3 separate regions of the Homo sapiens genome follow, and regions 2 and 3 are each linked to region 1. The links come from fine-mapping of genetic effects on gene expression. A gene starts in region 1. Each other region holds a variant in brackets. All regions are shown on one strand. Distances are from middle to middle.

Region 1 (9,516 bases):
TACAGGCATGAGCCACTGTGCCCAGCCTTTTTTACTTATTTATTTTTTTTAAGAGACAGGGTCTTGCTCTGTCATCCGGGCTAGCGTGCAGTGACTCGATCTTGGCTTACTGCAGCCTTAACCTCCTGGGCTCAAGTGATCCTCCTGGCTCAGCCTCCCAAGTAGCTGGGACAGCAGGTGTACACTACCATGTCTGGGTAATTTGTTTATTTGTATTTTTTGTAGAGACGGGGTCTGGCTATGTTGCCCAGGCTGGTTTCAAACTCCTGGCCCCAAGTAATTCTCCCACCTCGGCCTCCCAAAGCACTGGGATTACAAGCATGAGCCACTGTGCCCGGCCGTTGCTGGGAGTCTTAGCCACCCCACCATGTTTCCCAAGTCCCATCTGTCCTCAGCTCCAGGTTTGGGAGCTCAAACTTACATTAGATGCTATCAGTACAGACAATCTCTCGACCACATCCAAAAAAACTTCATTCTTTTGGCTCTGAGAAAGAGAGAGAATTTGGGTGGTTGGAAGCAGAATAGCCTATGTTCTGAAATGGACAGACAGGGAGAAAGAACAGGACAGTCAAAGCTACAGCTCTAGGGTGAGGACATGGGTGATGGAAGGGATCATCTCCCACCTCCACCCACATCTGGGGGGGTGGGAGATGTGCCAAGATCTTTTTCTTTTTTTTTTTTTTTTTTTGCATTTTTAGTAGAGACAGGTTTTCACCATGTTGGCCAGGCTGCTCTGAAACTCCTGGCATCAGGTGATCTGCCCACCTCGGCCTCCCAAAGTGCTGGGACTACAGGCGTGAGCCGCTGTGCCCGACCTAAGATCTTGGACTCCCGGATCCCAGAGCAAAACCAGAGCGTCTGACCCCATGGATCCTTCCCTCACCTGGTCAGAGCGACTGGACAGGACGGGGCGGCTGGCTGCACTGCTGGGGGCCACTTTGCTCTGTTGTGTCTCAGCCCCAAACTGTAAAGCATCCAAAGCAATCAATCATCAGGTCTGACAACCCCAGCCAACCCCTCTTCTCTTTCCTCACCCTCCTCTTTCCCTCTACTGACCAAGCCAACGCTGCTGAGGTCAAAGAGGCTGAAGGGCTTGCTGACCACAGCTTCCGTCTGGATGAAATTCCTCAGCATCTCCGTGGATGTGGTCTGTACATAGCCATAGTCCTAGTGGTAAAGGAAGGACAGTCTGAGTGATCAGTGGAGGGAAGGGGTAAAGAGGGGGAGTGGGGCCAGGCATGGTGACTCACTCCTGTACTCTCAGCGCTTTGGAAGGCCGAGACGTAGGAGAATGGCTTGAGGCCATGAGTTCAAGACCAGCCTGGGCAACACAGTGAGACTCTAGTCTCTACAAAAAATAAACAATTAGCTAGGCACAGGGGAGGCTGGGGCAGGAGGACGGCTTGAGCCCAGGAGTTCCAGGCTGCAGTGAGCTATAACTGCACCACTGCAGTCCAGCCTGGGCAACAGAGCAAGACCCTGTCTCTAAAAGCAAAAAAAAAAAAAAAAAAAAAGGTAGACTTGGCCTCCTAACCACGGCATCCCACAGTAGAAGAGCAGATGTATCTTCAGGGGAATTGGGTAGGGGCCACAGAAGGGGATTGTTGATTCTCACCAGCACTTCATCCAGGAGTTCGTATACCAGAGCCACATTGCGGGAGATGGTCCCCTCGCCCAGGGAGCCACAGTAATCGCCCAGAAGGGTGGCCAACCTGAGGAAACACTTGGAGCGTGTATTTTCTCCTCCTCTCAGACCCCTCCTAGCTACCAGGTGCCCAGCCCAACCCTCCTCACCTGGAGAGCAGTTCTAGGAGGCTGAAGGGAGAAACGTTTTCTGAAGTTGTGACCACCAAATAGAGGCCGCTGTGTCTGATGTGAATGAAATGACGGCCATGGTGATGCTGAGACACAGGCAGGGAGAAGAGAGGCGTTAAAAAAAGGGAGGTGGAGTGATCAGAACCCAGGAGACCTGAGCTCGGATCCCGATGCCTCTTACTAGTCACAACAGCAGTGCCTTTGGGAGATACATGACATATGCCTGGGCCCAGCTTCCCAATGTGGAAAGGGGGTTAATTACACTAACTACCCCGAGTTGCTGAGGATGGAGTCACGCAGGGAGCTGGGCCTGGTGTGTTGCTGGCGCCCATTGACTCTTTTTTTTTTTTTCCCCACCCCCACCTACCCCGAGAGGGAGTCTCGCTCTGTCTCCCAGGCTGGAGTGCGGTGTCCGGATCTCGGCTCACTGCAACCTCTGCCTCTTGGATTCAAGCGATTCTCAAGCCTCAGCTTCCCGAGTAGATGGGATTACAGGCGCCCGCCACCACGCCCAGCTATGTTTTTTTTTTTTTTGTATTTTTAGTAGAGGCGGAGTTTCACCATGTTGGCCAGGCTGATTTCGAACTCCTGACCTCAGGTGATCCGCCCGCCTCGGTCTCCCAAAGTGCTGGGATTACAGGCGTGAGCCACCGCGCCGGGCCTCACGTTAGCTTTATTTGGCGGAATGCACCCCCCAAGTGGAATCTACCAATGAACCAGTCCTGGGAGGGAGCTGGCGCCCACCCGGCCCGACGGGACCCCGCTCCTCACCCGCCTCCCGCCACTGGTTACCATGACAACCGGGGACTCGTCTCCTGGCAGTCCCGTCAGCTTCCGGTAGAAGAGCTCGGCCACATCCCGGCCGCCACTGTCCCCGCGGACTGGCGGGTGGAAGGACTCAGTGAAGGATCCTGCGACACAGGCTGGCCCTGGGCGCCCCTCCCGCCCGGCCCCTCCGCCCCTTCCCAGCCCCAAGGGTCTAGGATACAGTCTTTGTAGATGAGCGGGTCCCCCTTGGAGGACAGAATGAAGAATTGGGAAATCATGGCCGTTCTGGAGAGTAGACAAGAAGACGGCGAAAGTCGGGCCTGCCCCGCCCTGCGGCCCCGGAACAAAAGAACGCGTGTGCGCTGGCCCTTTAAGAGCGATTCTCCTCCGCCCGCGCCAGCTCGGACCGCGGGAAACCCGGCGCCTGCACTACCCCGCCCGGAGATTCCCTTCCGACGCCCGCACCGCCTCCCCGTCACTCATTCTAGGCCCGCACGGTGATTGGCTTGCGGCTAGCGGGAGGTGAAGAAGGCCGCCTTGTCCGATTGGCCCGCACGCAGTGGCGCCGGTCACGTGGGGGGCGACGTTTCGCGCCAATTTCGGTTGGCCGGCCACAGTCCACCGCGCGGAGATTCTCAGCTTCCCCAGGAGCAAGACCTCTGAGCCCGCCAAGCGCGGCCGCACGGCCCTCGGCAGCGATGGCACTGAAGGACTACGCGCTAGAGAAGGGTACGGGTCTACGAGCCCGGGAGGGCGTCCTGCGCGGGGAGCCTCCCGGGGAACACCTGTTGGTGTGAGCTGGGGTCTTGGGGGACCGGGGTCGGCGGGTTCTGGGGTGCGCGAGGCCAGAGGCAGGGTCGAGCTGCGGCCTGGCTAAGGCCCACGGGGCCTGGGAAGCGTGCGGGGGGCCATCGATGTTGAAGAAAAGCTAGTAATCCCACCTGGTAAAGGTGTTAGGGTCGTGGGGTTGGGGGCTTGGGGGCGCGCTAACCCGGCTGGGGGCTGCACAGGGAAAAGTCGCGCCCAGGACCTCAGGAGAGTCTTAAGGGCTCTGGGCTCCCGTGCCCGCTTTCCTTCGCGCTTTTGGGCATTCCCAGGTTCCCGCGCCCTCCCCAGGCGCGCGTAGGCCCCGGGGGCGGGCAGGCCGGGGCCGCTGCGCGCCGGGATTGGCCGTTTGAGGCCGCCCTCCGAGCGGAAGTGGAGCCGGGCGGAAGTGGCGCGAGGAGGCTGGAGGGAGTGTCGTGTAAACAGTGTCCTTCCGCGCGGCGGCCGCGGAGAGAGCTGCGGCCCGGGGGGGCGTGCCTGGGATCCGGAGCTTCGCTCGGGCCCGGGAAAGGCGGCAGTGGGCTGGGATCGCGGTGTCTCTGGGTGTGATGGCCAATGGCTGGACTGGCTCCCGCCCTGGGCGGAGGAATCCCGAGCTGTGAAGCGGCTGGAATCCGGGCCCATGTGCTTCTTTGTTTACTAAGAGCGGAAGCGATGGCGGGAGCGGGGGTGGGGTGCGGTGGCGGGGTGCGGTGGCGGAGGTCCCGGTGAAATCAGGGGCTAAGGGGACCCAAAGAAGGCGGGGGATCATAGGGGTGGAAAGAAAGCTGAGAACCTTGAGACCGGAGTGTGAGGGGCCAACGGGGAAGGGCGCTAGAATTTTAAACTAAAGTAGGGACCGGAATTCCCCTGGGGAGATGTTGGATGGCCCTGTGCACTGCCACGGGCTCTTTATTCTTCGCTGGTTAGAAACAGACTTGTGAAAAAGAGTTATGCCCACTTTGGGGAGACTTCGGTAGGTTTATTTAAATGCTCATATTATTAATTAGTTCATAGGTCGTGTTTTAAGCGAAAATGGGTATCTAAGATTTGTCTTAAAGTTTGTGTCTTACGGTTTTACATTTCATGTTACAGAAAAGGTTAAGAAGTTCTTACAAGAGTTCTACCAGGATGATGAACTCGGGAAGAAGCAGTTCAAGTATGGGAACCAGTTGGTAAGTCTAAGATTGGGTAAAGGGAATGGGGAGCGGGGTGCTTAAGGAGCCATAAGCAGCAGCTTGGCTTGTTTTATTAAAGACATAACAATTAGAGGGTTTGAGGGCTGAAAAGCGAGTATCGCTCTGTGTGGCGCTGCGTTCTCCCCTGTGGATGCCCAGAGCCTGTGCTGAGTTCTCAGTGATGCATTTTCACATATGAACACTGGTGAGCAAAGTGAATGTGGCTCTGAGGTGTTTCTGTCTCTTCCCCACTTGAGGTTCGGCTGGCTCATCGGGAACAGGTGGCTCTGTATGTGGACCTGGACGACGTAGCCGAGGATGACCCCGAGTTGGTGGACTCAATTTGTGAGAATGCCAGGCGCTACGCGAAGCTCTTTGCTGATGCCGTACAAGAGCTGCTGCCTCAGTACAAGGAGAGGGAAGTGAGTGGTTAGAGAACAATGGCAAACAAAGGGCGAGGCGTTTAAGCTTCTGTAGAGAGGCTGCTCAGATACTGATGTTTTCTGAGCAGGCAGAAAGGAGGGGCACTTCTGCCTGGTGTTCTCTGTGCTCTCCTTTCCCCATCCTGTTGCTCTTTTTTTTTTTTTTTTTTGTTCTTCTCCTTTAGGTGGTAAATAAAGATGTCCTGGACGTTTACATTGAGCATCGGCTAATGATGGAGCAGCGGAGTCGGGACCCTGGGATGGTCCGAAGCCCCCAGAACCAGTACCCTGCTGAACTCATGCGCAGATTGTGAGTGGTCTCTGTCGGGAAAGATGTAGGGATTGGTTCTCCAGGATCTTGTTTGTGACTGTTTTCTCCCCTTAGTGAGCTGTATTTTCAAGGCCCTAGCAGCAACAAGCCTCGTGTGATCCGGGAAGTGCGGGCTGACTCTGTGGGGAAGTTGGTAACTGTGCGTGGAATCGTCACTCGTGTCTCTGAAGTCAAACCCAAGATGGTGGTGGCCACTTACACTTGTGACCAGTGTGGGGCAGAGACCTACCAGCCGGTACGTGTGGAGCAAGAAGCAGGAAAGCACTTACCCATTAGTTGTTTTGTAGAGATTAATTTGATCCTGTGATGCCTATTGTTTTATTTGGTTGTAAAAGTTGCCTGTGTGTTCGCCTTTCATTCTTGGGTATGTAGTGGTCTTTCTACCTATTTTCTGGGTGTTTGTTGTTGACCCAGAGTAAGTTCAGAGGGTTCTTGACACTTACAAGATGTCTGCCATGAAGAGAAAATGTGATTCAAAGGACCGACCCAATGGGGCTCTTTTCCTTCTGAGTTCCTTTGGTGTTTCTGTTCTCACATCCTAGATCCAGTCTCCCACTTTCATGCCTCTGATCATGTGCCCAAGCCAGGAGTGCCAAACCAACCGCTCAGGAGGGCGGCTGTATCTGCAGACACGGGGCTCCAGATTCATCAAATTCCAGGAGATGAAGATGCAAGAACATGTGAGTTTGGGGTACGTGGCCCTGGGCAGGTGGATCGGGAGTCCACTTGAATCCTGTAGTCACTTGTGGAATGGCAGGAAGAAAGAAGAACAAAAGAGGGAAGTGCAGGAGGGAGGTGGAACTAGAATTTCCTGGGAGCCTTGGGAAGGGGAAAGGAGGTCTCAGCACCCCTGCTGTGGGCTTGTCTGTGGCTGGGTAGCCTGGGAGCCTTTGAGTGGGATGCCTAGGGAGGGAAGGTTGGGTCCTTGTCCATTTCTCCTAGTCTTATGTGCCTTTCCCTCCCCTAGAGTGATCAGGTGCCTGTGGGAAATATCCCTCGTAGTATCACGGTGCTGGTAGAAGGAGAGAACACAAGGATTGCCCAGCCTGGAGACCACGTCAGCGTCACTGGTATTTTCTTGCCAATCCTGCGCACTGGGTTCCGACAGGTGGTACAGGTAAGGAAGAGTTTGACATGAGGAATGGATCATCCCCTTTTCCCTCACCTACTCATTCTACCCACACAGAGAAAAGAGCAGCAAAACCCCAAACAAAACAGAACCCAGGGATTTGTCAAGAAATTGTTAGGGAATCCAGTGATGGGCAAGTTGAAGGGATTACATCTGTATCCTGGCATTTTCCTGCCCAAGGGTTTACTCTCAGAAACCTACCTGGAAGCCCATCGGATTGTGAAGATGAACAAGAGTGAGGATGATGAGTCTGGGGCTGGAGAGCTCACCAGGGAGGAGCTGAGGCAAATTGCAGGTGAGGGGCAGGGGAGAGAGAGGAAATTCCGTTTACATCCTAGCTCCCTTTTCCCCCAGAAAATAAAACAACCTTAACTTCTCTACAGAGGAGGATTTCTACGAAAAGCTGGCAGCTTCAATCGCCCCAGAAATATACGGGCATGAAGATGTGAAGAAGGCACTGCTGCTCCTGCTAGTCGGGGGTGTGGACCAGTCTCCTCGAGGCATGAAAATCCGGGGTAAGAAGAAACAAGGGAGAGGCTCAGGGTGGATGAAGTCATTTAGGAGGAAAAAAGGATGACAAGTGTCCCTGTAGGTCACAGTATGAGTGGACATCTTGCCTTCGTGGACACAGGGAGGGCTTAGAAATAGTGCTGGGTGTTAGGGGTAGGCAGAACTCAAAATTGCTCTGTTGTTGGCCAAGCACTGGGAGAAGAGTCATTCCAGGGCTGCCTTCCCTTCCTCCAGGCAACATCAACATCTGTCTGATGGGGGATCCTGGTGTGGCCAAGTCTCAGCTCCTGTCATACATTGATCGACTGGCGCCTCGCAGTAAGTAGTTGGGCTTTGCGGGAGGTGAATATAGTGACAGACAGGACCACAGTGTTTATTCAAAAAGTAGGGGTGCATGTTTGCTCACGCCTGTAATCCCAATGCTCTGAGAGGCTGAGGCAGGAGAATCATTTGAGGCGAGGATTTTGAGACCGCTTCCATGTCTACTAAAAAGTTTTGTTTTTGTTTTTGTTTTTTTTGAGATAGAGGCTTGCTCTTTCGCCCAGGCCGGAGTGCAGTGGCGCTATCTCGGTTCACTGCAAGCTCCACCTCCTGGGGTCACGCCATTCTCCTGCCTCAGCCTCCCGAGTAGCTGGGACTACAGGCGCCCGCCACCACGCCTGGCTAATTCTTTGTATTTTTAATAGAGACGGGGTTTCACCGTGTTAGCCAGATGGTCTCGATATCCTGACCTCGTGATCCGCCCGCCTCGGCCTCCCAAAGTGCTGGGATTACAGGCGTGAGCCACCGCACCCGGCCTAAAAAGTTTTTTTTGTTGTTTGGGTATTGTTTTGTTTTTTGTTTTTTTTGAGACGGAGTCTCAGTCACCCAGACTGGAGTGCAATGGCATGGTCTTGGCTCACTGCAACCTCTGCCTCCCAGGTTCAAGCAATTCTCCTGCTTCGGCCTCCCGAGTAGCTGGGACTACAGGCGCGTGCCACCACACTTGGCCACTTTTTGTATTTTTAGTAGAGACAGGGTTTACTGTGTTGGGCAGGCTGGTCTCGAACTCCTGACCTCGTGATCTGCCCGCCTTGTTATCGGCCTCCGAAAGTGCTGGGATTAGAGGAGTTAGCCACTGCGCCCGGCCTCTACTAAAAAGTTTTAAAAATTGGTTGGGTGTGGTAGTGAGTGCCTATAGTCTCAGTTACTTGGGAGGCTGAGGCCGGAGGATGGCTTGAGCCCAGGAGCCAAGGTTTCAGTGAGCCACAGTTGTGTTCTGAAGAGAACCAGTGGGAGGGGAAGGGGGACATTGCCAGTGCCCCACAGATCCTCGGGCATCTCAAGAAGGCCTGGTGGAGGGAGTGGAATGATCCCAGCGCAGGCCTCGCCTCCCTGGCCCGTTTGTTGTCTTTTGCTTGTTCTCTTTCTTGTTCTTTCTCTCTCATGGTTCCTTATTTCTTCTCTTCCAGGCCAGTACACAACAGGCCGGGGCTCCTCAGGAGTGGGGCTTACGGCAGCTGTGCTGAGAGACTCCGTGAGTGGAGAACTGACCTTAGAGGGTGGGGCCCTGGTGCTGGCTGACCAGGGTGTGTGCTGCATTGATGAGTTCGACAAGATGGCTGAGGCCGACCGCACAGCCATCCACGAGGTCATGGAGCAGCAGACCATCTCCATTGCCAAGGCCGGCATTCTCACCACACTCAATGCCCGCTGCTCCATCCTGGCTGCCGCCAACCCTGCCTACGGGCGCTACAACCCTCGCCGCAGCCTGGAGCAGAACATACAGCTACCTGCTGCACTGCTCTCCCGGTTTGACCTCCTCTGGCTGATTCAGGACCGGCCCGACCGAGACAATGACCTACGGTGAATGAAGCTCAACACCCAAAGAGAGGTCCCCTGTAATGATCTGTGTAGGGAGGAGGAGAGGTGAATCAGAAAACAAATTCCACGCTCCTGGAAACCCCAGAGCCTCCCCTTTGCAGCAGGGGCTGGTCCATGGTTCTCAGGGAAATGGTGGGTTGGGGCTGAAATGCTGATGAGGATTTCCCGGGAAAGCTTGTCCCTCCTACACTGTGAGGAAGTGGCAGAGCCAAAGGAGGGACACCTAAGAGGACATGGGTGCGTAGCCCTAAAAAGGGTGTTCCTTCTAACCTTCCCTCTGTCCAGGTTGGCCCAGCACATCACCTATGTGCACCAGCACAGCCGGCAGCCCCCCTCCCAGTTTGAACCTCTGGACATGAAGCTCATGAGGTAGGAGAGCTGGGTGCGGGTGGGCAAACGTTGGCGTGGGCCGTGCGAGCCTCCTGAAAAAGTGCTTATTAGTCTTAGGGTGTGTGTTTTTCACACCACCACTTCCCGCTACAGACATGTCCAGAGCCTCAGATCAGCTTTTAAGTGGAAAATTCCACACTTCATATCATAGGGACACAGGAAATTTTGTTTCCTACACTATTTATTTTTTTTGAGACGAAGTCTTGCTCTGTCACCCAGGCTGGAGTGTAGTGATCTCAGCTCTCTGCAACCTCTGCCTCCCAGATTCAAGCGATTCTCCTGCCTCAGCCTCCTGAGTAGCTGGGA
Region 2 (10,290 bases), 59 kb after region 1:
TTCCAGGGCTGAGATGCTCCTCAAGCAAAGGGGCTTAGAGCTGCTGTAAAATATTAACGTCAAAAGAGACCTTAAGGACAATCTGGTTAAACTCTTGTTTCTTGTTTTCAGTTGAAGAAACCAGTGCCTGAAGAAGTCGGATCCAAGGTACACTAGTTAGCTAATTAGTATCAAAGCTGAGAGCACAAGCCAGATTCTCCAATCCTGTGTGCTTGCTGTGTCTCAAGAGATTTTTTATTTTTATTTATTTATTTGCGGTAGGGCCTCACTCTGTTGCCCAGGCTGGAGTGCAGTGGTGTGATCATAGCTCACTGCAGCCTCCAACTCCTGGACTCAAGTGATCCTCCCACCTCAGCCTCCCGAGTAGGCACATGCTACCATGCCTGGCTATTTTTCTAAAAAATTATTTCTTTTTTTTTTTTTTTTGAGACGGAGTCTCGCTCTGTCGCCCAGGCTGGAGTGCAGTGGCGTGATCTCGGCTCACTGCAAGCTCCGCCTCCCAGGTTCACACCATTCTCCTGCCTCAGCCTCCCGGGTAGCTGGGACTACAGGCACCCGCCACCATGCCCGGCTAATTTTTTGTATTTTTAGTAGAGACGGGGTTTCACCGTGTTAGCCAGGATGATCTCGATCTCCTGACCTCGTGATCCACCCGCCTCGGCCTCCCAAAGTGCTGGGATTACAGGCGTGAGCCACTGCGCCCAGCCCCTAAAAAATTATTTCTAGGGGTTTTACCATGTTGCCCAGGCTGGTAGAGAACTCCTGGGCTCAAGCAATCCTGCTGCCTCAGCCTCCCGAGTAGCTGGGACCACAAAAGAAAAATAATTCCCATGCACGCCACCATGCTGGACAATTTTTTTTTTTTTTTTTTTTTTGGTGAGACTGAGTCTTGCTCTGTCGCCAGGCTGGAGTGCAGTGGCGCCATCTCGGCTCACTGCAACCTCCAACTCCCTGGTTGAAGCAATTCTCCTGCCTCAGCCTCCCAAGTTGCTGGGATTGCAGGCATGCGCAATCACACCTAGCTTTTTGTATTTTTAGTAGAGATGGGGTTTCACCATGTTGGGCAGGATGGTCTGGATCTCCTGACCTCAGGATCTGCCCACCTCGGCCTCCTAAAGTGCTGGGATTACAGGCGTGAGCCACCGCACCCGCACCGCACCTATTTTTTGAAAAAATGTTTCGTAGGGGTTTCGCCATGTTGCCCAGGCTGGTCGAGAATTCCTGTGCTCAAGCAATCCTCCTGCCTCAGCCTCCCAAGTAGCGGGATCAGATGCACACCACCATGCCTGGGAGATTATTGGCTTGACAAAAGAAAAATAATTCCAGTGCCCTTTGCAGCGGAAACCCAGGAGAGGAAAAGATTCCAGCATTTAGTGTTGTCTCTGGCACCTTCCTTCCATTTCCAGTAAGGTGTTCATGGTTCTCTCTAAAAAGGTGCATTTCTGGATCTTCCTCGCTCGTTCTCATCATCACCTATTTTTGCTGCCATCAGCTGGCCAGCAGAGGGTAACCAAACCGTGACTTCCCTTAGAGCAGGCTGGGCAAGCCTCTGGCGCATGACAACTCCGAACATGTCCTTTTTCTTCCAGGAAGCAGAAGACATGTGCAGCATGTTGGAAAGCTGCAAAGACATTTGCTAAAGAAATTGAAAGGAAAAGAGAATGAAAGTGGAATGGTGGAGTTAAACTTCATGAAAAAAATTATTCAGTGCTACTTTTTTTTTTTTTTTTTTTTTTTTTGAGATAGAGTCTCACGCCATCACCCAGGCTGGAGTGCAGTGGCACGATCTCAGCTCATTGCAAGCTCCACCTCCCGGGTTCACGCCATTCTCCTGCCTCAGCCTCCCGAGCAGCTGGGACTACAGGCACCCGCCACCACGCCTGGCTAATTTTATTTTATTTTTTTGTATTTTTTTTAGTAGAGACGGAGTTTCACCGTGTTAGCCAGGATGGTCTCGATCTCCCGACCTCGTGATCCGCCTGCCTCAGCCTCCCAAAGTGCTGGGATTACAGGCGTGAGCCACCATGCCCGGCTCAGTGCTACTTGTTAAAGCATGGTAAGGAAGACTTTATTCAGGACCATCCTAATAAATACAGGAACCACTGCAGTGGGGTCTTGCAGTGAGGGGAGAGAGATTGGGCTCAGCTCTGAACACAGCATGGGCAAGTGGCAATTTATAGCCAAGGAGCAGGATGGGGGTCAGTGTATGGAAAATGATCAAGAGGAAACATCAGAGGGAAGGGGTATTCTTGCTGAACACAGGCCAGGCTGATCAGACATCGCCTGGGGGATGGTGGAGGACAAGGAACCTGACCAGATAAATATCAAGAGTAATTAGATATGGGCTGGGAGCGGTGGCTCACGCCTGTCATCCCAGCACCCTGGGAGGCTGAGGCAGGTGGATCACTTGAAGTCAGGAGTTCGAGACCAGCCTGGCCAACATGGCGAAACCCCGTCTCTAAAAAAAATACAAAAATTAGCTGGGTGTAGTGGTGTGCACCTGTAGTCCCAGCTACTCGGGAGGCTGAGTCAGGAGAATCACTTGAACCCAGGGGGTGGAGGTTGCAGTGAGCTGAGATCATGCCCTCCAGCTTGGGCAACAGAGAGAGATTCTGTCTCCAAAAAAAAAAAAAAAAAAAAAAAAAAAATCAAGAAAGAAAAGAAAAAGAAAAAAGCCTAAGTAGATATGGAGGGTGGGAGGTTTTTGCTAAACTTAGCAGGGTTCTTGCTAAAACTGGATTTTAGGCCCTTGCATGGTGGCTCATGAATATAATCCCAGCACTTCGGGAAGCTGAGGTGGGAGGATTGCTTGAGGCCCAGGAATTTGAGACCAGCCTGGGCAACATAGCAAGACCCTGTCTCTGCAAAAAATTAAAAAAAAATCTAGGCGTAGTGATGCATGCCTGTAGTCCCAGCTGAGGCTGAAATAGGAGGATTGCTTGAGTCCAGGAGGTTGAGGTTGCAGTGAGCCACAATCGTGCCACTGCACTCCAGCCTGAGCAACAGAACGAGACTTGTCTTACAAAAATAAAGAAAAATAAAATCCAGTTCTGGGTCGGGCACAGTGGCTCACGCCTGTAATCCCAGCACTTTGGGAGGCCAAGGTGGGAGGATTGCTTGAGGACAGGAGTTCGAGACCAGCCTGGGCAACATAGGGGGACCCCCATCTCTATAAAAGAAAAAATAATTATTAAGAAAAAATAGGGCTGGGTGTGGTGGCTCACACCTGTGAGGCCAAGGCAGGCAGATCACTTGAGCCCAAGAGTTCAAGACCAGCTTGGGAAATAGCCAGACTGTCACTACAAAAAATACCCAAAAAAGGCCAGGTGCGGTGGCTCACGCCTGTAATCCCAGCACTTTGGGAGGCCTAGGCAGGCAGATCATGAGGTCAGGAGATCGAGACCATCCTGGCTAACACTATGAAACCCCGTCTCTACTAAAACATACAAAAAAAGTTAGCCGGGCACAGTGGCGGGCGCCTGTAGTCCCAGCTACTCGGGAGGCTGAGGCAAGAGAATGGCGGGAACCCGGGAGGCGGAGCTTGCAGTGAGCCGAGATGGCGCCACTGCACGCCAGCCTGGGAGACAGAGCGAGACTCCGTCTAAAAAAAAAAAAAAAAAAACCCAAAAATTACCTGGGTGTGGTGGTGTATTCGTATACACACACACACACACACACACACGTGTATCTATACACATATACACATACACATGTGTATATATAATAAAAATATATATGAGACCTATGAGCCATCCCAGCAAATTATCAAACCTGAGACTGAGGAGAAGATTGTGGAAGCCCTTGATTTATAGCCGGTCCAAAGCACAGGTGAAAACCCGGAATGTAAGACTGGCGTCTGAAATGGGGGCAGTCTTGAGGGACTGAGCCCACAACCTGTGGAGTCTGCATCAGTTACAGGTAGTGTCAGAATTGAATTGAATCGTATGGCACCCAGTTGGTGTCCAGAGAATTGGTTGGTGTATGAAAAAAAATCCCACATTGTGTCAGAAGTGTGAGTAAAAACAGTCAGAGATGTGTTTGGATGCCTCCTGGACACAACCTCACATCCTCCCAGTTCACCTTTTTTTTTTTTTTTTTTTTGAGACAAAGTCTCACTCTGTTGCCCAAGCTGGAGTGCAGTGGTGCGATCTCGGCTCACTGCAACCTCCCCCTCCTGGGTTCAAGTGATTCTCCTGGCTCAGCCTCCCGAGTAGCTGGGACTACAGGCGCCCGCCACCACGCCTGGTTAATTTTTGTATTTTTAGTAGAGAGGGGGTTTCACCATGTTGGCCAGGCTGGTTTCGAACTCCTGGCCTCAGGTGATCTGCCTGCCTCGGCCTCCCAAACTGCAGGGATTACAGGCATAAGCCACCATGGCTGGCCATGTCTATCAGTCTTAAAGAGTCTGTTGTTATCAGTAATTCCATATGGGGAGAGGGTATAATGAGGCATGTTTGGCTCCCCCTTCCCATCATGGCCTGAACTAGTTTTTCAGGTTAACTTTGGAATGCCCTTGGCTGAGAGGAGAGGTCCATTCAGGTGACTGGGTGGCCTTTGAAATTTAATTTTGGTTTGCAAAGTAAACAGATAGTTTTGCATGAGAATTTTGTTTGTGGGTTGCAGCTCCAGTCTTTTAACTTTGGAATACTTTTTTTTCTTCACCCCCAATGTGTATTTATGCAACCAAGGATGAGAAAAACAAAGAACAAAAAACAAACCAGCACAAGCACTGCCACCTAGAGATGATAATTTATTGTTTTACCATGACTCAGAAGAGAAACAACATAAAGAGAATATTTCAAATCCCCACAATTTCCTTCCTCAACCTCACTACTCTTAACATTTCTTTATCAGA[C/T]GCCACTGGCTTCCTAAAATGGACCACTGACTATGTATGTGTACACATTTCATTATGCTGCCTTTTCTCTTATGATTAAAACTTTAGCCCTCATTCGAGGTTTCCAATGGTTACTTTTAGTGGAGGAGTTCCCTAGCTTTTAAAAAACCACTTTTCCTCTAAGATTCCATTATTTATTGAAAGAAGTCTTTCTAGAAATGTTAAGGAGGATTTTAAATGAACACATTCAATTAAAAAAAAAATCACGTATTGAACATCTACCAAGCATCTGGACTCTTCGGAACCTAGTAAAATGAAAAAATCCAGTTTTAACAACAGTAACTTCATTCTGCGGGTATACAGAGACAAGCACGTTTCTTCTTTTGGTCTAATTTATTCTAAACGAAGAAGCTGGGAACTGACAAAACAGGACAGGTTGTTTTTAATCCAGTCTACAAATAAACAAGACAATGCCTGAGTTAGCCCTCTATATAGATTTAGGCTTATGCTGACCTCGTTGTAAAATCTGTATTTAACTAAAAGTTAATAAAAATACATATGTTCATTTTAAAATAATTACTGATTTTGCTTGGCTATCCCACCCCTTACCCCCAAACTCATATATTTTTAGGACAAGATTTTCCTGCATAACCACAACCTGTCTCCTCCCACCCCACCCCCATCATAGATGTTTTCAAATAAGAACCCCTGCGATCAGCAGAAGCATCTCTAATCTAACATGCTTTGTCCTTGCTAGGGCAGGCTAAAAGCTTTAAAAAGCAACCGGATGCTCTTCTCTGGTTGAGGTGAGGGGAAGGCGCTCGGGTACCAACCCCAGCACACCCCAACAGCCTTTCCTCGGCCCCTCCTCAGGCCTCCTAATTACTCTTTCTCAGCCTGGAGTGTGGGGCCGTTACCGTCCTCTTCCCCCTTCTCCTTCCATACTGCACTTAACCTTGCTGGAAGACTTAATGATGGAGATTTAGGGCAACTGTGGCTGCTTGGACCCTTCCCTGGACCAAAGGAACTTAAAACCCAAACCTGACACTGGAATGAAATCCAAGTTTTTAAATATCACCTTTCAATCACTCACAGATCTCACTCTATCTTAAAATACTCAGCCTCACTCCTTAATGAGTGCTTGCTGAAGGGAGAAAATTCCATTTTAAAAACGTATTCACTTTACTGATTACTGTGCAATTTGAATTAAGTCACGATTCTTTAGTAAATGGAGGTGAGAATCTCAGATTCAAATTGTCAGAGACCATGATTTAGAAGTCTACCAAACACCCAGTTTCCTTCCACTGTTTTAGGGTAACAGGAAAACATGAGATTGGGGTGGTGTCCGCTATTAAATGGAACCACACATCATGAAATTCAATTCTCATGTTAAGACATTCTGTATTGTGGGATGTCAAAAGTATTTCCCAAACTTTCGTTTGACCTGCAGAGTTGGAGATGGCTTACCTCCCTATAACTTCAAGTTTGTTTCACAAAGCTTTGAAAAGTAAAACAGATAATTTCATTTTCAGATAATAAAAAATCTGAATAGCAAAATAATTGCTTTTAAATGTAGTGTGTCCACTCTAAAAAAAAAAACCCTAAATCTATGTTAGAAAAACTTTTCAAATAATGCCTTTTATTAAATTCTCCAGTAGTAGTTGAAATAAAAATCTACCCTAATTTCTATGAAATGATCTATTTATATCACTGACTTTTCTTTTTCTCTGATTCTATATTTCATTTAACAATCTGCAGACTTTCACCCCATTTCCCAGATGGGAAAACCCTAGCCCCCTCGTATCTCTGAGAAGTTGCTCAGAGTAGGACACAGAGAAATATGGCCCCCACCCTGGGAAGTACTGCTGTCACTGTTTAAGTGTATTTCAGTTCTGTTACTCCAATTCATACACACAGTCTTCCATGAGGATGGTAGGATGAACCTGGTTAGCTGGCTTTGGATAAGCAGATCAGCATGACTACCTGGAATAAAAGTGACTGACTCTAGGATAAAAATTAAAAAAAGATTCTTTCACAGCAACGAGTCTTTGCAAAACCTCTCTCCTAATAATCACAAACCAGGGGAAGAAAAGTGGGAGCAGGGAACACAGGAACACAGCCAAAGGGAATATTGCAAAATGCTTCCCGAGCTTCATCAGACAGACTTCTTGCAATGCCACGACTGGATGCATCTGCACACAATTCCGGGAAATGCCCACCTTGCTGTTCTCCTATCCCCAATTTTCTTTCTTTCTTTCTTTTTTTTTTTTCTTTTTTTGAGACAGAGTCTCTGTTACCCAGGCTGGAGTGCAGTGGTGCAATCTCGGCTCACTGCAACCTCTGCCTCCCAGATTTAGGTGATTCTCCTGCCTCAGCCTCCTGAGTAGCTGGGACTACAGGCGCCCACCACCACGCCCGGCTAATTTTTGTATTTTTAGTAGAGACAGGCTTTCACCACGTTGGCCAGGCTGGTCTCAAACTCCTGACCTCAAGTGATCCGCCCACCTCTGCCTCCCAAAGTGCTGAGATTACAGGAGTGAGCCACCGTGCCTGGCCAGTCCTATCCTCCCCCCAACCTTTTTTTTTTTTTTGACATGGAGTCTCACGCCATCACCCAGGCTGGAGTGCAGTGGCGCCATCTTGGCTCACTGCAACCTCCGCCTCCCATGTTCAAGTGATCCTCCTGCCTCAGCCTCCTGAGTAGCTGGGACTACAGGCGCCCGCCACCACGCCCAGCTATTTTTTTGTATTTTTAGTAGAGACGGGGTTTCGCCATGTTAGCCAGGATGGTCTCGATCTCCTGACCTTGTGATCCACCCGCCTTGGTCTCCCAAAGTGCTGGGATTACAGGCCTGAGCCACTGTGCCCAGCCTTATCCTCAATTTTCTAAGCATAAGGATTTAAGAGTTAGTGGGAAAGCATGACTACGGTTTAAAAGAACCTGGTCAGCTGAAGCAGTCCCACTTGGCCATTCCAGTACACTTCCTACTCTCGCTTCATGGAGAAGACCGTCTACTGACAAGAGAATCCATCCCCTTTGCACACAGTGGTCACCTGACAGCTCAGAGGTCAACTTCTTGGTTTTGAGGAAAAATTCAAAAGGCTGCACGTTTAAAGGAGTTGTTCCATTTCAGTGCCCCATTAGCCTGTCTTTCCTCAGAAATTTACCAATCTCTTGATGTGATAAGCACCAAACTATGAAGCTTTTCCCTTCCTCTCCCCGCTGCTCCGTTCTGTGAACCGACTTTTTGTCTACAATCACACTGATTTCTTCACTGTTTGCTCTGAAACTTCACTTTTTCTGAGTGATGTGTTCTGTCAAATAGGCTAAAATAAAATACAGTATCTGCTTACAGGTAATATACGGAACAATAACAAGGGACTGAAGGTACAAAACACACACGGACATTATGGTCATATAAAATATATAGAAGTACCTAACGTTAACAATTTTTGTAAGAAGTTGCACATTTTGCTATTTTTTTAAAGCATTTCCCCACATTTTTTTTCATCTGTAGATCCTCTGCAGTTAAGATTGAGCACCCCCCCGCAACTTTTTTTTTTGATACAGAGCCTCGCTCTGTCACTCAAGGCTGGAGTGCCAGTGGCATGATCTTAGCTCACTGCAACCTCCGCCTCGCAGGTTCAAGCCATTCTCCTGCCTCAGCCTCCCGAGTAGCTGGGACTACAGGCGTGCGCCACTGTGCCCAGCTAATTTTTTTTTGTATTTTTAGTAGAGACAAGGTTTCACCATGTTGGCCAGGCTGGTCTCGAACTACTGACCTCGTGATCCGCCTGCCTCGGCCTCCCAAAGTGCTGCGATTACAGGCGTGAGCCACGGCGCCCGGCCAAGATTGAGCTCCCTCTTGCAATGTTTCTCAAATTCATCACGATTGGAACATACCGACGGAATTCATTTTCTGTCTGAAGCAATGAGTGCTATACATGAAAGTTTTCCTCACATATAATATTCATCAAGTTTATTTACAGTATAAGCTTTCCGATGCTAAGGGCTGAGATGTGATTAAAGGCTTTGCCGTATTCATCACATTCAGGAGGCTCCTTTCTGGAATAAATTCTCTGATGTCTATGTGAACTGTCCCACGTATCACACGTCAACCTCTCTATACATATTTAGCAGTTTCACTTTTATGCCTTTAATATTAAGTGCTTTACATATCAAGATGTCTCATAGATCGATAATCTCAGGTTTTAGCCTTGCCTGCCAGGCTGGAGTAGAAACAAATACCCCACAACCTGAGGATTTTACTTCTCTTCCTGGCAAGGGTAGGGTATATATTGAAAAACTCTTCAAAAATTTCCATTAGGACAACTAGCATGCTAATGGTTAACTGTAGAATGTTTCAACTGTTAACAGACTTCAGCGGGCCAAGAACTTTTGAATGACTATCTTGAACGCCAATTAGATGTTGCAAGCGTTTTTGACCATGACCCAATTACACTTTGCACTGAGCATCTGATAAACGAATGCACTGCAAGTGGTTTTAATAAACAGTTGTAGCCTGTTTTCCTCAGAAAACACATCTTCAAATAGCTGCTTCAAGGACAGCATGTGGCTGAAGATCGAAGCAACCCTAGTGGCAGCTATCCAACAAAGTCAGGAAGATGTCTCCATGAAACGGAATTAAATGTGAGGGCACAGGTCACATTTAACCTTCATTTAAAAACAAAACTCAAAAGTGATGGCTGAGTTATATCAGCATATAGTTGTGGCTGAAAGAAAAAAAAAAACCAAAGGCCAATGTAAACATGACCAAAGTCCTTTCCCTCTTAAAAAATAAGTGCTTGGGTCGTTGCCTGGAGTTCCACACCTCACTTTTCAGTTTCTTTCTTTCTTTTTTTTTTTTTTGAGATGGAGTTTTGCTAGTCACCCAGGCTGGAGTGCAGTGTGCAATCTTGGCTCACTGCAACCTCTGCCTCCTGGGTTCAAGTGATTCTCCTGCCTCAGCCTCCCAAGTAGCTGGGATTACAGGTGCCCACCATCATGCCCGGCTAATTTTTATAATTTTAGTAGAGACGGGATTTTACCATGTTGGCCAGGCTGGTCTCAAAACTCCTGACCTCAGGTGATCCGCTCACCTCGGCCTCCCAAAGTGCTGGGATTACAGGCGTGAGCCACCGCACCTGGCCTCAGTTGCTTTCTAGAGGGCAAAAGTCCTTGCTCAAAAGCACAGGAGTTTTCTACAAAACCATTGCTGTGGCTTATTCTTTGAAGAAAATCCTTAAAACATTTTCTGCCTCCATTTTAGTTACTTAGATATACTCTTCTGGAGTAATGGGTTTTTCTTCCGTTGCATGGGTAGAAATATCCTAGTGACTGGTTGACTTGCAACACGTTTTCCCAAGTAATGCTGATGAAACTGCTTAGAAGCTATAGGGAAGTTGTAGTTGGTTTAAGTCATAAAGCCAAGGAGAGGCCAAAGAATGACCACTGT
Region 3 (10,290 bases), 290 kb after region 1:
AAGCAGCATACTGTGCTGCTTCCTGTGCACCCCCTCAAATGGTTCTGCAGAAGACGGAAAGCTAGAGATGCTCCTGACCAAAGAATGCCCCTCTCTCTGGAAATAATGCATGTCTGGGAACAATGGGTGTGAAAGGAGAGAAGAGGAGAACAGCTACCTGGATTGCCAGGTGGACTCCAGCCACCTTAGCCACCAGGGATGTGGCTGATGTCACTACAAGCAGCACATACAACATCAAGGACTCCAATAAGATGATTTGAGCTTCTTCTTTGGGGTAGTAGGGGTCAGAACAGACACATCCTGCTTTCTGAAGAGTGAAATATTTACCCCAGGAGCTGGTAAGGATGAGGCCTGCGACAGCAATGCTGTCATCTGAGAGCCCCTCTATGCCTGCTTGCTGGAAGAGATCCCAAAGCTGAGCCTTTGGAAATGGCACTGGCTCATTATCATCACTGACCCACGTTCCATGTCTCCTTGCCCTGAGGAATTATGAATTATGTGACAAGTAAATCCTCGACATTCTTAAAAGTCAGCAGAAATACAGCCCTAAACTCCTGGGCTCAAGTGATCCTCCTGCCCTAGCCTCTCGAGTAGCTGGAACTACAGGCATGCATCAACATGTCCAGACTTTATTTGTTGTTGTAGATATGGGGTCTTGCTATAATGCCTAGGCTGGTCTCAAAGTGCGGGCTCAAGCAATCCTTCTCTCTCAGCCTCCCAAATTACTGGGAATACAGACATCAACCACTGAGCCTGATCTTGATAGAAATTCTTAGTAAAAAGGATGACTTTTAAATATTAAATCTAGATTCTCAAGCAGTATGGTAAACTATTTTTGAAAAGCCATATACAATTAAATTTGTATATGTTAAAACTTGCAAAATAATCTTGAGTAGGCTGGACGTGGTTGCTTATGCCTGTAATGCCAGCACTTTGGGAGGCCAAGACCAGCGGATCACAAGGTCAGGAGATCGAGACCATCCTGGCTAACACAGTGAAACCCCGTCTCTACTAAAAATACAAAAAATTAGCCGGGCATGGCGGCGTGTGCCTGTAGTCCCAGCTACTTGGGAGGCTGAGGCAGGAGGATGGCGTGAACCTGGGAGGCGGAGCTTGCAGTGAGCCGAGATCTTGCCACTGCACTCCAGCCTGGGCGACAGAGCAAGACTCTGTCTAAAAAAAAAAAAAAATCTTGAGTAGATATTATACATTTTAATTATACAAGCAGCCATTGACTTCTGAAAAGTCCAGTAACCCCTCCTAATTAAACCCATCCTATGAAATGATGGGAAGAGGGCTTCAGGAGACTTTATTTATTTATTTATTTATTGAAACAGAGTCTTGCTCTGTGGGCCCTGAGCTGGAGTGCAGTGAAGTGATCTCGGCTCATCGCAACCTCCGCCTCCTGAGTTGAAGCACTTCTCCTGCCTCAGCCTCCCCCGTAGCTGGGATTACAGGTGGGCACTACTGAGCCCAGCTAATTTTTGTATTTTTAGTAGAGACGGAGTTTCACCATGTTGGCCAGGCTGGTCTTGAACTCCTGGCCTCAGTGATCAGCCTGCCTCGGCCTCCCAAAGTGCTGGGATTACAGGCATGAGCCACCGCGCCTGGCCTGTGCTTTTGCTTTTAACATCTCATCTTGGCTACAAAGAGCAGTGCAAATGGGGAACTTCTCAAGTCCTACAGCATTTTGACCATAGTTTTAGCCTCACTCTTATCAAGTCAGCAACACTGTAACTTCCAATCTCAGTTGAGTGGAGGGCAAGCAAATTGCTATAGAGACTGAGAAACATCAGCCTGTAGATGCCTGGGAGCTGGGCTAGGGACTATCTTCCCCTTCCCAAATGTGCCACAAGCCTGCTTTCTCCCGCACTGAGCCCCCTATTTGTACAGATGCACAGATTGGCTACAAAGCTTCCATTAAGCCACAAATAGGATGAAAACCATCTCTACCCTCCTCCATTCCCATGCAGAAATCCTGCTTCAGAGAAGGAGTTGCATATTGAATGCATGAATCCTAGAAATAAGACTTAGAAGGTCTTGTTTGACATCAATCAATGACAACTGTCTTTAAGTTCATCAGGGAAAAGATCCCAACTTTTCTATAAAGGTAACACCATGTTATTTTTAATTTTAAAGTGACATGAATGTATTTTTCTAAGAGACAGACAAACACACCCACAAACACCCACACATACATAAATGTCAGATTAAAATTAAAAATTAAATACCTTAAAATTTGTGGCCAGGAACCCCAATTCAACTGCAAATCACTCCTTGAACATTTACTGAATGCTTGCCATGGAAATGTCCCCTGCAAAGTGCTATTTGAATTTTATGAAAGAAATAAAATGAAGTGATATTTTTTAAGGGGCTGAGGACAGACATTCTTAGATATAGAGAGAACTTAGTAAACAAACATGAATGATTTAGTGACAAATATGAAATCAGGTGATGATAACAGCCTGCAGTAATGAATAACAAAGCAGAGGACTGAATGGGCCCTGGACTAGATGGAAGGGCTTTTCGGAGGAGGTTGGGGATTGAACCAGGACATGAAGGATGGGGAGAGGATAAGAAAGAGAGAGGGAAGAACATTCATAGAATTATTGTTGGGTTGAGAACTAGCTTGGCTTGTCAGCAGGAAGGGTCCTGGAAGGTGAGTTCTAACAGTCAGGATGACCCTGACCTCTGGGAGATTTTCTACTCTGGAAGAAATGTCTTGATTTAGTGATTCTCAAATTTGGTTTCACATGAGAAGCAATGGAGAGGATGTTTAAAGCAACACTGTGGGGAAAGTATTTTAGAATCTCTGAGATGACACAAGCATCGTGAATATTTAAAACTCCCAGGTGATCACAATGAACAGCTAGTGGTTGAGAACCACTGTCATAAGAAATCTTCTGGAAATTCTTTTTTAAATTTTTATTTATTTAAATTTAAAATTTTTATTTTTGGTGGGTGTGAGAAAACATTTTAAATGATCCATTTTCTTTTTTTTTTTTTTAATGTTTTTTTTTTTAATTATACTTTAAGTTTTAGGGTACATGTGCACATTGTGCAGGTTAGTTACATATGTATACATGTGCCATGCTGGTGCACTGCACCCACTAACGTGTCATCTAGCATTAGGTATATCTCCCAATGCTATCCCTCCCCCCTCCCCCGACCCCACCACAGTCCCCAGAGTGTGATATTCCCCTTCCTGTGTCCATGTGGTCTCATTGTTCAATTCCCACCTATGAGTGAGAATATGCGGTGTTTGGTTTTTTGTTCTTGCGATAGTTTACTGAGAATGATGGTTTCCAATTTCATCCATGTCCCTACAAAGGACATGAACTCATCATTTTTTATGGCTGCATAGTATTCCATGGTGTACATGTGCCACATTTTCTTAATCCAGTCTATCATTGTTGGACATTTGGGTTGGTTCCAAGTCTTTGCTATTGTGAATAATGCCGCAATAAACATACGTGTGCATGTGTCTTTATAGCAGCATGATTTATAGTCATTTGGGTATATACCCAGTATTGGGATGGCTGGGTCAAATGGTATTTCTAGTTCTAGATCCCTGAGGAATCGCCACACTGACTTCCACAATGGTTGAACTAGTTTACAGTCCCACCAACAGTGTAAAAGTGTTCCTATTTCTCCACATCCTCTCCAGCACCTGTTGTTTCCTGACTTTTTAATGATTGCCATTCTAACTGGTGTGAGATGATATCTCATAGTGGTTTTGATTTGCATTTCTCTGATGGCCAGTGATGATGAGCATTTTTTCATGTGTTTTTTGGCTGCATAAATGTCTTCTTTTGAGAAGTGTCTGTTCATGTCCTTCGCCCACTTTTTGATGGGGTTGTTTGTTTTTTTCTTGTAAATTTGTTTGAGTTCATTGTAGATTCTGGATATTAGCCCTTTGTCAGATGAGTAGGTTGCAAAAATTTTCTCCCATGTTGTAGGTTGCCTGTTCACTCTGATGGTAGTTTCTTTTGCTGTGCAGAAGCTCTTTAGTTTAATTAGATCCCATTTGTCAATTTTGACTTTTGTTGCCATTGCTTTTGGTGTTTTGGACATGAAGTCCTTGCCCACGCCTATGTCCTGAATGGTAATGCCTAGGTTTTCTTCTAGGGTTTTTATGGTTTTAGGTCTAACGTTTAAATCTTTAATCCATCTTGAATTGATTTTTGTATAAGGTGTAAGGAAGGGATCCAGTTTCAGCTTTCTACATATGGCTAGCCAGTTTTCCCAGCACCATTTATTAAATAGGGAATCCTTTCCCCATTGCTTGTTTTTCTCAGGTTTGTCAAAGATCAGATAGTTGTAGATATGCGGCATTATTTCTGAGGGCTCTGTTCTGTTCCATTGATCTATATCTCTGTTTTGGTACCAGTACCATGCTGTTTTGGTTACTGTAGCCTTGTAGTATAGTTTGAAGTCAGGTAGTGTGATGCCTCCAGCTTTGTTCTTTTGGCTTAGGACTGACTTGGCGATGTGGGCTCTTTTTTGGTTCCATATGAACTTTAAAGTAGTTTTTTCCAACTCTGTGAAGAAAGTCATTGGTAGCTTGATGGGGATGGCATTGAATCTGTAAATTACCTTGGGCAGTATGGCCATTTTCACGATATTGATTCTTCCTACCCATGAGCATGGAATGTTCTTCCATTTGTTTGTGTCCTCTTTTATTTCCTTGAGCAGTGGTTTGTAGTTCTCCTTGAAGGGGTCCTTCACATCCCTTGTAAGTTGGATTCCTAGGTATTTTATTCTCTTTGAAGCAATTGTGAATGGGAGTTCACTCATGATTTGGCTCTCTGTTTGTCTGTTGTTGGTGTATAAGAATGCTTGTGATTTTTGTACATTGATTTTGTATCCTGAGACTTTGCTGAAGTTGCTTATCAGCTTAAGGAGATTTTGGGCTGAGACAATGGGGTTTTCTAGATAAACAATCATGTCGTCTGCAAACAGGGACAATTTGACTTCCTCTTTTCCTAATTGAATACCCTTTATTTCCTTCTCCTGCCTGATTGCCCTGGCCAGAACTTCCAACACTATGTTGAATAGGAGCGGTGAGAGAGGGCATCCCTGTCTTGTGCCAGTTTTCAAAGGGAATGCTTCCAGTTTTTGCCCATTCAGTATGATATTGGCTGTGGGTTTGTCATAGATAGCTCTTATTATTTTGAAATACGTCCCATCAATACCTAATTTATTGAGAGTTTTTAGCATGAAGGGTTGTTGAATTTTGTCAAAGGCTTTTTCTGCATCTATTGAGATAATCATGTGGTTTTTGTCTTTGGCTCTGTTTATATGCTGGATTACATTTATTGATTTGTGTATATTGAACCAGCCTTGCATCCCAGGGATGAAGCCCACTTGATCATGGTGGATAAGCTTTTTGATGTGCTGCTGGATTCGGTTTGCCAGTATTTTATTGAGGATTTTTGCATCAATGTTCATCAAGGATATTGGTCTAAAATTCCCTTTTTTGGTTGTGTCTCTGCCCGGCTTTGGTATCAGAATGATGCTGGCCTCATAAAATGAGTTAGGGAGGATTCCCTCTTTTTCTATTGATTGGAATAGTTTCAGAAGGAATGGTACCAGTTCCTCCTTGTACCTCTGGTAGAATTCGGCTGTGAATCCATCTGGTCCTGGACTCCTTTTTTGTTGGTAAACTATTGATTATTGCCACAATTTCAGAGCCTGTTATTGGTCTATTCAGAGATTCAACTTCTTCCTGGTTTAGTCTTGGGAGAG[T/A]GTATGTGTCGAGGAATGTATCCATTTCTTCTAGATTTTCTAGTTTATTTGCATAGAGGTGTTTGTAGTATTCTCTGATGGTAGTTTGTATTTCTGTGGGATCGGTGGTGATATCCCCTTTATCATTTTTTATTGTGTCTATTTGATTCTTCTCTCTTTTTTTCTTTATTAGTCTTGCTAGCGGTCTATCAATTTTGTTGATCCTTTAAAAAAACCAGCTCCTGGATTCATTGATTTTTTGAAGGGTTTTTTGTGTCTCTATTTCCTTCAGTTCTGCTCTGATTTTAGTTATTTCTTGCCTTCTGCTAGCTTTTGAATGTGTTTGCTCTTGCTTTTCTAGTTCTTTTAATTGTGATGTTAGGGTGTCAATTTTGGATCTTTCCTGCTTTCTCTTGTAGGCATTTAGTGCTATAAATTTCCCTCTACACACTGCTTTGAATGCGTCCCAGAGATTCTGGTATGTGGTGTCTTTGTTCTCGTTGGTTTCAAAGAACATCTTTATTTCTGCCTTCATTTCGTTATGTACCCAGTAGTCATTCAGGAGCAGGTTGTTCAGTTTCCATGTAGTTGAGCGGCTTTGAGTGAGATTCTTAATCCTGAGTTCTAGTTTGATTGCACTGTGGTCTGAGAGATAGTTTGTTATAATTTCTGTTCTTTTACATTTGCTGAGGAGAGCTTTACTTCCAACTATGTGGTCAATTTTGGAATAGGTGTGGTGTGGTGCTGAAAAAAATGTATATTCTGTTGATTTGGGGTGGAGAGTTCTGTAGATGTCTATTAGGTCCGCTTGGTGCAGAGCTGAGTTCAATTCCTGGGTATCCTTGTTGACTTTCTGTCCCGTTGATCTGTCTAATGTTGACAGTGGGGTGTTAAAGTCTCCCATTATTAATGTGTGGGAGTCTAAGTCTCTTTGTAGGTCACTCAGGACTTGCTTTATGAATCTGGGTGCTCCTGTATTGGGTGCATAAATATTTAGGATAGTTAGCTCCTCTTGTTGAATTGATCCCTTTACCATTATGTAATGGCCTTCTTTGTCTCTTTTGATCTTTGTTGGTTTAAAGTCTGTTTTATCAGAGACTAGGATTGCAACCCCTGCCTTTTTTTGTTTTCCATTGGCTTGGTAGATCTTCCTCCATCCTTTTATTTTGAGCCTATGTGTGTCTCTGCACATGAGATGGGTTTCCTGAATACAGCACACTGATGGGTCTTGACTCTTTATCCAACTTGCCAGTCTGTGTCTTTTAATTGCAGAATTTAGTCCATTTATATTTAAAGTTAATATTGTTATGTGTGAATTTGATCCTGTCATTATGATGTTAGCTGGTGATTTTGCTCGTTAGTTGATGCAGTTTCTTCCTAGTCTTGATGGTCTTTACATTTTGGCATGATTTTGCAGCGGCTGGTACCGGTTGTTCCTTTCCATGTTTAGCGCTTCCTTCAGGAGCTCTTTTAGGGCAGGCCTGGTGGTGACAAAATCTCTCAGCATTTGCTTGTCTATAAAGTATTTTATTTCTCCTTCACTTATGAAGCTTAGTTTGGCTGGATATGAAATTCTGGGTTGAAAATTCTTTTCTTTAAGAATGTTGAATATTGGCCCCCACTCTCTTCTGGCTTGTAGGGTTTCTGCCGAGAGATCCGCTGTTAGTCTGATGGGCTTTCCTTTGAGGGTAACCCGACCTTTCTCTCTGGCTGCCCTTAACATTTTTTCCTTCATTTCAACTTTGGTGAATCTGACAATTATGTGTCTTGGAGTTGCTCTTCTCGAGGAGTATCTTTGTGGCGTTCTCTGTATTTCCTGAATCTGAACGTTGGCCTGCCTTGCTAGATTGGGGAAGTTCTCCTGGATAATATCCTGCAGAGTGTTTTCCAACTTGGTTCCATTCTCCACATCACTTTCAGGTACACCAATCAGACGTAGATTTGGTCTTTTCACATAGTCCCATATTTCTTGGAGGCTTTGCTCATTTCTTTTTATTCTTTTTTCTCTAAACTTCCCTTCTCGCTTCATTTCATTCATTTCATCTTCCATTGCTGATACCCTTTCTTCCAGTTGATCGCATCAGCTCCTGAGGCTTCTGCATTCTTCACGTAGTTCTCGAGCCTTGGTTTTCAGCTCCATCAGCTCCTTTAAGCACTTCTCTGTATTGGTTATTCTAGTTATACATTCTTCTAAATTTTTTTCAAAGTTTTCAACTTCTTTGCCTTTGGTTTGAATGTCCTCCCGTAGCTCAGAGTAATTTGATCGTCTGAAGCCTTCTTCTCTCAGCTCGTCAAAATCATTCTCCATCCAGCTTTGTTCCGTTGCTGGTGAGGAACTGCGTTCCTTTGGAGGAGGAGAGGCGCTCTGCGTTTTAGAGTTTCCAGTTTTTCTGTTCTGTTTTTTCCCCATCTTTGTGGTTTTATCTACTTTTGGTCTTTGATGATGGTGATGTACAGATGGGTTTTCGGTGTAGATGTCCTTTCTGGTTGTTAGTTTTCCTTCTAACAGACAGGACCCTCAGCTGCAGGTCTGTTGGAATACCCTGCCGTGTGAGGTGTCAGTGTGCCCCTGCTGGGGGGTGCCTCCCAGTTAGGCTGCTCGGGGGTCAGGGGTCAGGGACCCACTTGAGGAGGCAGTCTGCCCGTTCTCAGATCTCCAGCTGCGTGCTGGGAGAACCACTGCTCTCTTCAAAGCTGTCAGACAGGGACACTTAAGTCTGCAGAGGTTACTGCTGTCTTTTTGTTTGTCTGTGCCCTGCCCCCAGAGGTGGAGCCTACAGAGGCAGGCAGGCCTCCTTGAGCTATGGTGGGCTCCACCCAGTTCGAGCTTCCCGGCTGCTTTGTTTACCTAAGCAAGCCTGGGCAATGGCGGGCGCCCCTCTCCCAGCCTCGTTGCCGCCTTGCAGTTTGATCTCAGACTGCTGTGCTAGCAATCATCGAGATTCCGTGGGTGTAGGACCCTCTGAGCCAGGTGTGGGATATAGTCTCGTGGTGCGCCGTATTTTAAGCCGGTCTGAAAAGCGCAATATTCGGGTGGGAGTGACCCGATTTTCCAGGTGCGTCCGTCACCCCTTTCTTTGACTCGGAAAGGGAACTCCCTGACCCCTTGCGCTTCCCAGGTGAGGCAATGCCTCGCCCTGCTTCGGCTCGCGCACGGTGCGCGCTCACACTGGCCTGCGCCCACTGTCTGGCACTCCCTAGTGAGATGAACCCGGTACCTCAGATGGAAATGCAGAAATCACCTGTCTTCTGCGTCGCTCACGCTGGGAGCTGTAGACCGGAGCTGTTCCTATTCGGCCATCTTGGCTCCTCCCCCTTAAATGATCCATTTTCAAGGCATGGTAAATCTAAGCACTGGCAGCCAGCCTGTGGATGTAACAAACTGCACGGCTCATGCACCTAGAAGGTCATAATAAGTGAACAGAATGTAGAGGAGGGGTCAGCCCATAAAAGGGAAGAAAGTTTTATTATCAGGAAGTCAAACTTAAGCAGGGAAGGGAACCGGGGTATAACCTTATAAGGGGGATAATGAAACTTAGGCGATGTCCAGGAAGATAACTCTGTAGTACTTGACCAATGAGGAACTGGGGGAAGGAATTCTGTGCTAGGAGATAAATTACCTGCTGTAACTGCCCTGGTTGTACCTGCCTACCAGACACCCGATCTTGCAAGGCCACCATTAAAAGTCTTGCTTCCGGCCAGGTGCAGTAGCTCACACCTCTAATTCCAGCACTTTGGGAGGCCAAGGCCAGGAGTTTGAGACCAGCCTGGCCAATATGGTGAAACACTATCTGTACTAAAAATACAAAAAATACAAAAATACATGGACATTGTCCATGGCAAGCATTCAGTAAATAGTCAAGGAGTGATTTGCAGTTGAATTGGGGTTCTAGGCCACAAATTTCCAAGCATGGTGGTGCACACCTATAGTCCCAGCTACTTAGAAAGCTGAGGCAGGAGAATCGTTTTAACCCGGGAGGCAGAGGTTGCAGTGAGCTGAGATCACACCATTACACTCCAGCCTGAGCAACAGAGCGAGATTTTGTCTCAAAAAAAAAAAAAAGTCTCACTTCCACTGTTCTTCATGTCTCCAAGTTCATTCTTTGGGTTTGGACAGGTGAATGTGTTTACCACAAACTTGTGGACCCACCTGGGGCTTCTGTGCCTGTGTGGAGTGGGACTCTTGCTGAGAGGGGAGACACATCTCACCTGATTTAGATAGCCCGCTCTGTTTAGGTATCCCGACTTCCCGCAGAGGCCATAGACAAACCTGAGACTGTTATTCAGGAGGCAGAGGAGGTGACACAGGAGGAAAGAAGGCACCACAGCAACCAGGCAACCTTGTGTATGAGCCGAGGAAGAAAAATTGGACCATAAGTACTACCTTGGTGGTTGGGCATTTTTGGAGGTCAAGTGTGTGTGACTGAGATGTATCCTAGATATGAAGTGAGTGCGGAGTCCCAATCTGCAGTTCTGTTCTCCCACGAGGGAAATGGCCATAGATGGATGAAGCGATTCTCAGGGTGTGCAGGAAACCTCCAGTGAGGCTGGGGGGTGGTTGAG

Evidence for each region. PIP is the estimated chance that this variant, and not a neighbour inherited with it, causes the effect.
Region 2: its variant is fine-mapped to the expression of MCM7 in whole blood (TOPMed, PIP above 0.99).
Region 3: its variant is fine-mapped to the expression of MCM7 in lung (TOPMed, PIP 0.98).

Annotation. Positions count from the first base shown.
Region 1 is chr7:100,095,060-100,104,575 of GRCh38, reverse strand. It overlaps MCM7 (minichromosome maintenance complex component 7), which reads left to right and starts at 3,179. Exons shown (of 15, transcript NM_005916.5): 1 at 3,179-3,312; 2 at 4,483-4,562; 3 at 4,823-4,987; 4 at 5,173-5,297; 5 at 5,373-5,553; 6 at 5,861-5,998; 7 at 6,286-6,435; 8 at 6,628-6,742; 9 at 6,831-6,962; 10 at 7,192-7,275; 11 at 8,409-8,802; 12 at 9,106-9,189. The coding sequence starts at 3,282. It overlaps AP4M1 (adaptor related protein complex 4 subunit mu 1), which reads right to left and starts at 2,933. Exons shown (of 15, transcript NM_004722.4): 1 at 2,804-2,933; 2 at 2,608-2,696; 3 at 1,795-1,901; 4 at 1,616-1,712; 5 at 1,057-1,167; 6 at 884-964; 7 at 422-484. The coding sequence starts at 2,861. RefSeq lists enhancers at 2,855-2,904, 2,927-3,479, 3,825-3,984, 8,575-9,075 and a silencer at 3,615-3,714.
Region 2 is chr7:100,036,130-100,046,419 of GRCh38, reverse strand. ZKSCAN1 (zinc finger with KRAB and SCAN domains 1) reads right to left here. Exons shown (of 6, transcript NM_003439.4): 6 at 4,731-10,290. Among named protein-coding and RNA genes, the nearest start is that of ZSCAN21, 8.5 kb to the left of the region's middle. RefSeq lists enhancers at 8,089-8,588, 8,589-9,090. The variant C/T (reference allele first, on the strand shown) is at 4,856.
Region 3 is chr7:99,807,953-99,818,242 of GRCh38, reverse strand. No RefSeq gene overlaps it. Among named protein-coding and RNA genes, the nearest start is that of CYP3A43, 15 kb to the left of the region's middle. RefSeq lists enhancers at 8,159-8,761, 8,762-9,365. The variant T/A (reference allele first, on the strand shown) is at 5,749.